Linked DNA regions of Homo sapiens: region 2 is linked to region 1. The links come from fine-mapping of genetic effects on gene expression. A gene starts in region 1. The other region holds a variant in brackets. All regions are shown on one strand. Distances are between the middles of the regions. Region 1 holds the start of NUDT14 (nudix hydrolase 14). Region 2 overlaps TEX22 (testis expressed 22).

Region 1 (4,383 bases):
AGGCTGCAAGGGCTGCCCTGAGGCTTCACGGGGAGTGAGGGAGAGAGTGCTGCCACCAGGGCCACAGAGGGCACCTGCCTGGGCCTGCACCTGCTGCCTGAGACCCAGCCCTGTGGGGACTGTGCAGCCACAAGCAGGCATCCCATATGGCCAACGTCAGGGAAAAGGGCAGTGACCCCATGTCTCCACCTGCTGTACCCCGACTGATCCCAGCTGCCCCCTGCCAGCACCACCAGCTTAGCTTCGCCTTGGGGAGAGGGATCCCCTGTCCTCCAGCGCCAACAGGACTCCCGCAACAGGGAAAGTGAGGGGCACAGGGCCTCTCTCAGGCTGGGGGCCAAGAGGGCTTCTCCAGGATGGCGAGGGGCAGAGTCCTGGATGTGATGGGGGGGACAGGATGCCCCCTGAGGGAGGGAGGCAGGCAGGCAGAGAGGCACTGCGACCTGGACCACCTGACCTGATAGGCTGGGGGGCTGGACTGACTGTGACCAGGAAGGTGGTCTTTGCCTTAATGGCATGAAGGAGCTCTGGCAGAGGGGAGATCTGCTGGGGGCAGGTGGGCATGCAAGCAAAAGGTGGGGCCCTAACTGGACAGGGCTGGGCTTGGAGGAAGACGGCCCGGGACTCAGTGATCCACTGGATGTGGGAAAAGGATGGCAGCAGCTCCTTCACCCAACACATATGCCTCATGCCTGTAATCCCCATGCTTTGGGAAGCCAAGGCAGGAGGATCGGTTGAGGCCAGAAGTTCAAGACCAGCCTGGGCAACAGTGAGACGTCGTCTCTACAAAAAAATTTAAACATTAGCCAGGTGTGGTGGTGTGCACCTGTGGTCCCAGCTACTGGGGCGGGGGCTGAGGCAGGAGGATCGCTTGAGCCCAGGAGGTTGAGGCTGCAGTGAGCTGTGACCATGCCACTGCACTCCAGCCTGGGCGACAGCAAGACCCTGTCTCAAAAACAAAACAAAACAAAATATTCCTTGTGAACCTACCATGTGCCTGGTGCTAAGTGAGGCAATACAGCCTCTTGTGCCGTGGCCTGGCATGGGAGAAGGTGACACCCTAGGAGGTGGGGAAGGCTGAGCTTAGGCAGATGGAGACTCCAAGGAGGTGCCCTCCCTGGAAAAAACCCCAAGGAGGAAGCCTGCTTTGAGAGGCTCTCTCAAGTTCTCACTCAGCTCCTTCTCCTACCTCCCTGCGCCCGGCCTCTGCGCTCCTTGCTCCCTCCTCCTCGGCCCAGCTATCTCCTCCTTCAAGTGGTAGCATGAAAGCCACCACTTCCAGGAAGCCTTCCCTGATCCCCAGGGCAACCAAGGAGTTCCACTGCCAAGAGGGTCGGATTGGGCGGGCGGGAAGGATGGGGCCCAGCAATGCTTCCTTGAAAGGATGAGTGGTGCCCCCTCAGATGTCCCTCCCGCGGCCCCTCCCCGGCCTGGGGGCTCACTGGGTCTGGGAACCCGCGATCCGGCGGGCGGACAAGCGGCCGCCCGGGAGATCGGCGGGAGGCGGGGGCGGGGCTCCGGGGCGGGGCCGGCAGCGCGGAAGATGGTGGGCGGGGCGCGGGTCGTGGGCCGGGCCGCCGGCGGGGGCGCGGGGGACGCGGGGGCGCGGGCTCACCTGGCGGTAATGCAGCGTGAGCGGCCGCAGGTAGGGTGAGGCGGCGCAGCGGCCCACGGACGCCCCCTCGATGCGCTCCATGGCGGCGCCCGGACAGGCGGGGGCCGCGAGCTCTGCGGGGGCCGACACGGGGCGGCGCCCTGTCCCGACAGGAGCCTTCGGGCGGGCGCGTGACCGCGGCTCTGAGCATGCTCCGTGGGCGCGCGGGGCGGGGCGGCCGAGGTGGGCGGGGCGGCCGAGGTGGGCGGGGCTCGCAGGTGCCACCTGTCGGGTGCCGCGCGCCTCGGGGCGCTGGTCGCCGCGGTGCCAGGGAAGCCGCGCAGGCACGTGGGCGTCGCCCGGGGGAAGGACTGGCCGGGTCGACCCCGGCCGCCGGGCGGGGCCAGCCGGGCCGGGGTACAGTGCTTGGGTGGGACTCGGGACCTCTTGGCTGGGGGAGGGAGGGCCTGGCGGTGGTTGGAGCTAAGGGCCTGCAGCTTTGGGGTGCGATGGGCCGAGCGGATGCCTCCCCACTCTGGGGATGGACCACAACCCCGAGATTAAGTTACTCCAGGGGTCCGCGGGCGGGGCCGGGGGCGGGGCAGCCCCCCAGGGAGGGAGGGACTGTGGGCCCAGGAAGAAAATCACAGGAGACCAAAGAGAGAGGGCCCTGGAAGGAAGCTAGGGGAGAGGAGAGTAGGGAGCTGGAGGGGCCAGAGCTTGGGCCGAGGGGGCCTCCCCTCGAGGTTCCTGGTGGCGAGGGTGGCTGGGAGCTGCCACGCTGTCTCTGGAGCTGTCCCTCCTCCACTCAAAAGCCAGCTGCCCTTCCCTCCCCCTGCAAGTCCTACCTTGATGACGGCCCTTCCTGGGTGTGGGAGGGTCCCAGGCAGCTTCAGTGCTTCCTTGGGCATGGATTCCAAGGACCCCCTCCAAATGCCACCACGGCCTCCACGGGGGCAGGAAACAATATTGAGGCCCACACTGGCCCTGAACCCTGACCTGCACCTGCTTTCTGAACTATGGCCCAGGGGACATGCTCAGGGTGGACTGGCCATGTGAGCTTGAAATCGACTCCCAGTTCCCTGTTAACTATTGCCGTGTAACAAAACACTCCTCCAAAGCTTAGTGCCTTAAAGCACCCCGTTATCGCCTGGCCTGTGGGTTGCCCAGCTCAGCCAGGCAGCCCTGTCTTGGGGTCTCTCTGCAGTTGTAATCAGGTGGCAGCTGGGGCTGGAGTCGTCTGAAGGCCAAACGGGGTGGACCGTCCAGGATGGCCTCTTCGCCCCCGCCCTCAGTTGGGTGGCTGGAACAGCTAGGGCCGGCTGGCCTCCCATGTGGCTGGCGTGGGCTTCCCTGCAGCATGGTGGTCTCGGGGTAGTTGGATTCTCCCGTGGCAGCTGGCTCCCTCCAGAGCACGTTCACCAGGCCAGGCCAAGCTGCCAGGCTTTGTGTGACCTGGCCTCAGATGTCATATGGTGTCATTCCTGGGGCATCCTGTGGGTCAGAAAGTCCTGGGCCTCCGGCAGATTCCAGGGGAGGGACATCACCAGGTGGGAACGCTGGGGAGCACGGTCATGAAGCCAGCATCCAAGTCCAGCTGTCACCGCCCCAGTAGCTCTACAGGGGCCTGTGTCTCCCTGCTTTAGCCATTCCGCCTGGTGTCCCGGAAGCCAGAGCGCCCAGCCCAGAAGCTGGCCCCACCCTACCCCACAGCCAGGCAGGCCTCTTCCTCCGGTGCACGAGGGGCCCAGGGTAAGCGCGCACCCTGGCATGTCGCGTGCAGGCTCCTTCCTGCCCGTGGTTGCATGGAAAATGAGGATGAGTCTCAGCTTCCAGCAGCAGCAGCCCCGGGACAGGCAGAGGCAACAGGAGCCCCATCAAGGAGCCCCTGGGAGAGCCAGCAGCTCCTCAAAGCACCGTGCTCCTCAGACTCACTCGGGTCCAGGTGTCTGGCAGTGCAGACTGCAGAGCTGAGTGCCTGAAAATATCAGCAAGGAGCCCACTGTGGGACGCAGCCTGGCGGCTCCTCAAAAAGTTAAGCATAGAATTACCCTGTGGTCCAGCAACTGTCTTCCTGGGTATCCACCCAAAGGAGTTGAAAACAGACACTCAGACAGATGCTTCCTCACAGCAGCCAAAGGGAAGAACAACCCAAGCATCCGTTGCCAGGTGAATGGATCCAGAAAATGCAGTGTAGACGTGTAAGGTAGCACAACTCAGCCATGAGGAGAGAAATTCCCACACAAGCGACAGCGACACTATGCTCAGCAAAAGAAGCCAGACACAAAGGCCGTGTCCTCTGCGATTTTGTGTATATGAAATGTCCAGGCCGGGCGCGGTGGCTCATGCCTGTAATCCCAGCACTTTGGGAGGCCGAGGCAGGCAGATCACGTGATGTCAAGAGTTCGAGACCAGCCTGGACAACATGGTGAAACCCTGTCTCTACTAAAAGCCAGCCGTGGTGGTGTGTGCTTGTAATCCCAGCTTCTCGGGAGGCTGAGGCACGAGAATCGCTTGCACACGGGAGGGAGAGGTTGCGGTGAGCTGAGATCTTGACACTGCATTCCAGCCTGGGTGACAGAGTAAGACTCCATCAAGAAAGGCAAAGGCAAAGGCAAAGGCAAAGCAAGGCAAGGCAAGGCAGAGAAAGGGAGGGAGGGAGACAAAAAGCAAGAAAGAAAAAAGAAAATGTCCAGAACAGGTAAATCCATGAGACGGAAAAGCAGCTGCGGACTGGTGGGGCTGAGGGCGGGAGAATGAAGAATGCTGACTAATGGGTGCCGGCTTTC
Region 2 (4,383 bases), 220 kb after region 1:
GGGAGGCGGAGCTTGCAGTGAGACGAGATTGCGCTACTGCACTCCAGCCTGGGCGACAGAGCGAGACTCCGTCTCAAAAAAAAAAAAAAAAAAAGAGAAACCTGTTGTTCAATTCCTTCATGAAGAACACTTTACAATGTTACTGAATAGCATGTAGAGCTCCTGATGGAGATGGTTATCATATTGGATGGGCAGATTTCATATGTGTGTTTTTGAGACAGGGTCTTGCTCTGTCACCAGGCTGGAGTACAGTGGTATGATCACAGTGTTACTGGAAAAGGGATCTCCATCTGGACCCCAAGAGAGGGTTTTTGGATCTCATGCAGGAAGGAGTTTGAGGCGAGCTGCAGAGTGCAGTGAGAAGAGATCATTTATTGAAAGCCGCTCCACTGCAGAGCAGGGCATCCTCAACAAGCAAGCAGAGGAACAGACCTACTTTGTTTTTAGTTTTTCTTATATCGAGGTCTTATCTATGTAAAGACCAAGCTGTGCCTACGTGTGGGTGGGCTGACAGCATAACAATTTATTATTCTATTGATTAAAAGGAAACTATTTTACATTTTAGTGTGCAAGTACATTAAAGCATCACTATAATTATCTTGAAAGCATATATTATTGTGGGTGTTGGGACATCTGAACTTCCTTTTCTATGAGTTTGTCCTTGTAGGCATTACCAAGCTGCTTCCTTAGCTGTAAACATCTTAGGTCCGTGGTTGTGACCTGTAAGGAATGTGCTCTATTAGTCTCAAGGTGGAGTTGAACATAAAATGATGTTATCCTGGCTCTCCTAGACTCCTGCTTCTCTAATCACAGCTCACTACAGCCTGGACCTCCTGGACTCCAGCTATCCTCCCACCTCAGCCTCCCAAGTAGCTGGGACCACAGTGGCATGCCACCATGCCTAGCTAATTTTAAAAAAATTTTTGCAGAGATGGGGTCTTACTGTGTTGCCTGGTGTGGTCTTGAACTGGGCTCATGTGATCCTCCAGCTTTGGGGTCCCAAAGTGTTAGGATTATAGGCATGAGCCATTGCGCCCAGCCAGATTTAACGTTTTAAACATGCCAAGCTTCCCAAAAACAATTCAGTGTTTTTTAAAAAAACAGACTTCATGAATCTTGAAAATTTCATTTTAAATGTACATAGTGATTCTGGAAATGTATTACTAGTTTACTTTTTAAAAAAAATTACAGACAGGGTCTCACTATGTTACCTAGGCTGGTCTCTAACTCCTGGCCTTCCTAAGAGCTGGGATCACAGGCATGAGCCACCATACCCAGCCTTTGGCAATGTATTGGTTATCCATTGCTGCATGACAAATTTCCCCAGAGCTTAGCAACTTAAAACAGTAAGTATTTTTATCTTAGTTTCCGTAGGTCAGAAATTTGGGAGCTGCTTAGCTGGTGGCTTTGGTTTGAGATCTCTCAGGAGCTTATAGTTGAGATAGCAGTCAACACTTCAGTCATCTCAAAGCTTGAGGAAGGCTGGAGACTGCTTCCACGGCAGCTCACTCACATGACTGGCGAGTCCATGATAGGGGCTGGCAGGAGGCTCAGCTCCTTACCACGTGGATCTCCCCATAGGACAGCTTCAGTATCCTCAGTATGGGGGCTGGCTTCCCCCAGAGTGAGTGAGTGGAGAGAGTGAGCTGAAAGCTGCAATGACTTCCATGACTTAACCTTGGAAGTCACACTCCTCTCTTTCTACAGTATCCGTTTTGGATACACTGGTCATCCTATTTAGTGTGAGAGGGGACGACACAGGGGCATGGATACCAGGAGGTGAGGATCATTGGATGCCATCTTGGAGGACAGCTCTCACAGGCAGTCATTTAGTCTATACGCTTTAAGAAATTATGTACTGAGAAGCATAATAGTGAAATTGTAGAATGCCAGCGACAAAAACCTCAGAAGCAATTTGAGTGGGAAGACAGAACCTTCAAAGCAGCCACGGGAGCTCGTCACAGTAGAGCAGTAGCATGCCTGTGCTCAGGGGAAGCCATGCTCAGCCTGGAATAGCAGGCCCAGCAAAAATGGATTATACAAAGGGCTAAGTAAAGTTTTTAAATGATAAAAAAGAGAATTTGCCCCCAGCACACTCTCACCTCAGTTCTGAAGAAATGATCTCAAAGCATCATGAAAGTGATGAAAGGTCTGAAATGGATAAAGCATGAGAGGAAGTAGGAAGTGTCTGAGTAAACTGAAACTGACAGTCACTGGATGTCACTCATGCACAGAAAAGCAAGGATACAATCAATATATGTACCTGCAATGGCATAAATGTCAAGATGGTGCCTGTGAGTGGAACTAAAGTGTTCTCAGTTCCTCTGAGAAGAGGAGGGGGGTGGGCCATGGTGGCTCACACCTGTAATCCCAGCACTTTGGGAGGCCTAGGTGGGAGGATTGCTTGAGCTCAGCCTGGCAACATGGCAAAACCCCATCTCTATAAAAAAATCACAAAAAGTTAGCCAGGCATGG[T/C]GGCATGTACCTGTAGTGCCAGCTACGTGGAGGCTGAGGCAGGAGGATCACTTGTGTCTGTGAGGCGGAAACTGCAGTGAGCTGAGATTGCACCACCACACTCCAGCCTGGGCAACAGAGCCAGACCTTGACTCAAAAAAAAAAAAAGATCGAGTTGCTTGTCATCTTTGGAGTTAGATGAGTTTGCCTGCCCTCACATATTACAGCAGAAGAACAGAAGGAGATACGATGGCAGATAGAATCGCCGGTACGTCATTTAATTCAGTCAATGAAAACGGACTAAGTGTTCCAGTTAAAAGACAGACATTGTCAGAGTGGGTTGAAAACAACCAAATTCAGCGGTAGGGTTGTGAACGTGTGCAGCGGTAAGCACAGGAATATTCCAACCGCAGGGTGAAGATGGACACCAAACGGCCGTGCATCAGTTCACATTGCATTTTTCTGTCAAACAGCAAACTTACCTCGGATTTGGGAATGTGGTTGTGTGGACGCCTGTTGCGTGCAGCCGTGAGCGTGAGTCTCATAGACCTGTTCCTGAGTGAAAGAGGCAAAAAGGTGACAAAATTATTCATGCCATGTGGCTTTGTTCAGAGTTCAAAAGCATGCAGAAGTAAACAAGATATTGCCAATATTCATTAAAGTATAATTTGAAAAAATAAAGATGTTTTAAAATGTTTACTTGGAAAAGGAACCATACAACAATTTTGGAAAATAAGAGCAAGGCCTGGCTTGTCCGCACCAGCTCCAACAACTAAAACTGTGTGGCCCTGTGGCAGAAGGTGGCAAAGACACCACTGCCTGGACAAGTAACCCGGAAACCAACCTGTGCATAAATGTGGGGATTTAATTTATGTTGAGCATGGCATTTCAGAGTAGTGAGAAACAGACCTTTCAATAAGTGGTATTGGGGTGATTGGCTGTATAGTTAGAAGACGGTAGAGTGCGGGTCCGTCTCTCAAAAAAATGCACACACAAAAAACATTAAACCCAAACCATGTGAGCACTGAGAGAGTATATGAGAGAATATTTGGGATCTGGAAGTGATAAGTGCCTTTCGTAGGCCAAACACAAAATCCTTGAAGGAAAAGCCTGACAAATCTAACTACAGAGTTTTTAAACATTTCTGTGCAATCAAAGACACAAAAATGTTAAACGACAGCCTGGAAGAAAATACTTGTAATATTTATAACATTCAAATGTTTACCAACCAGAATCTATGAAGAGATGCTTGAAAGCAATGAGGAAACTATTTTTAAAACTGGATAGAAAAGTGGGCCAGGCACAGTGGTTCACTGCTGTAAATCCCAGCACTTCAGGAGGCCAAGGCAGGAGGATCACTTAAGGCCAGGAGTTCAAGACCAGTCTGGACAGCATAGTGAAACCCTATCTCTGCAAAAAATAAAAATTAGCCCGGGTGGCGTGCCACTGTAGGCTCCCAGCTGCTCGGGAGGCAGAACAAGACCCTGTATCTTTAAAAAAAAGGAGGAAAAAAATGAATTAAGTCTACGTACTTGCAGTTCCTAAAAAAAAAAAAAAGGAACTAAATGAAACAGTGAAAAAGTTGGCAAAAATTATAAAGGTGGATCTATGTGGAGTTGGTGAGGATGTAAGGAAAGAGTAAGTCTGTTTTATTGGTTTTTCAAAGAGCCCATTGTGATCATTATTCACCATTTTTAAATTTTAATTTAGTCATTAATCTTTCCTAATTTCATCTTTAAGCTTTCAGACCATTTCTTTTGCTGTTCTTTTTGTATCTTTTCAAATAATTTGCACGGTCATGGTTTGGGGACCTTTTTCTAAAGATGTATTTAAAGCTCCAGCTTCTCGCAGCACAGCTTTGACCATACCTCACGTTTTGGTGTGTCCTGATTTCATCGTTCGTTTCTCAGCCACCATGTCTGGCTAATT

What was found. PIP is the estimated chance that this variant, and not a neighbour inherited with it, causes the effect. A credible set is the group of variants that fine-mapping cannot tell apart.
Region 2: its variant is the best candidate, but not a certain one, in a credible set for the expression of NUDT14 in putamen (GTEx, PIP 0.66).

Annotation. Positions count from the first base shown.
Region 1 is chr14:105,179,514-105,183,896 of GRCh38, forward strand. It overlaps NUDT14 (nudix hydrolase 14), which reads right to left and starts at 1,799. Exons shown (of 5, transcript NM_177533.5): 1 at 1,616-1,799. The coding sequence starts at 1,696. RefSeq lists a silencer at 1,499-1,968.
Region 2 is chr14:105,402,681-105,407,063 of GRCh38, forward strand. The region is part of intron 2 of TEX22 (testis expressed 22); the gene reads left to right. Among named protein-coding and RNA genes, the nearest start is that of TEX22, 6.3 kb to the left of the region's middle. The variant T/C (reference allele first, on the strand shown) is at 2,476.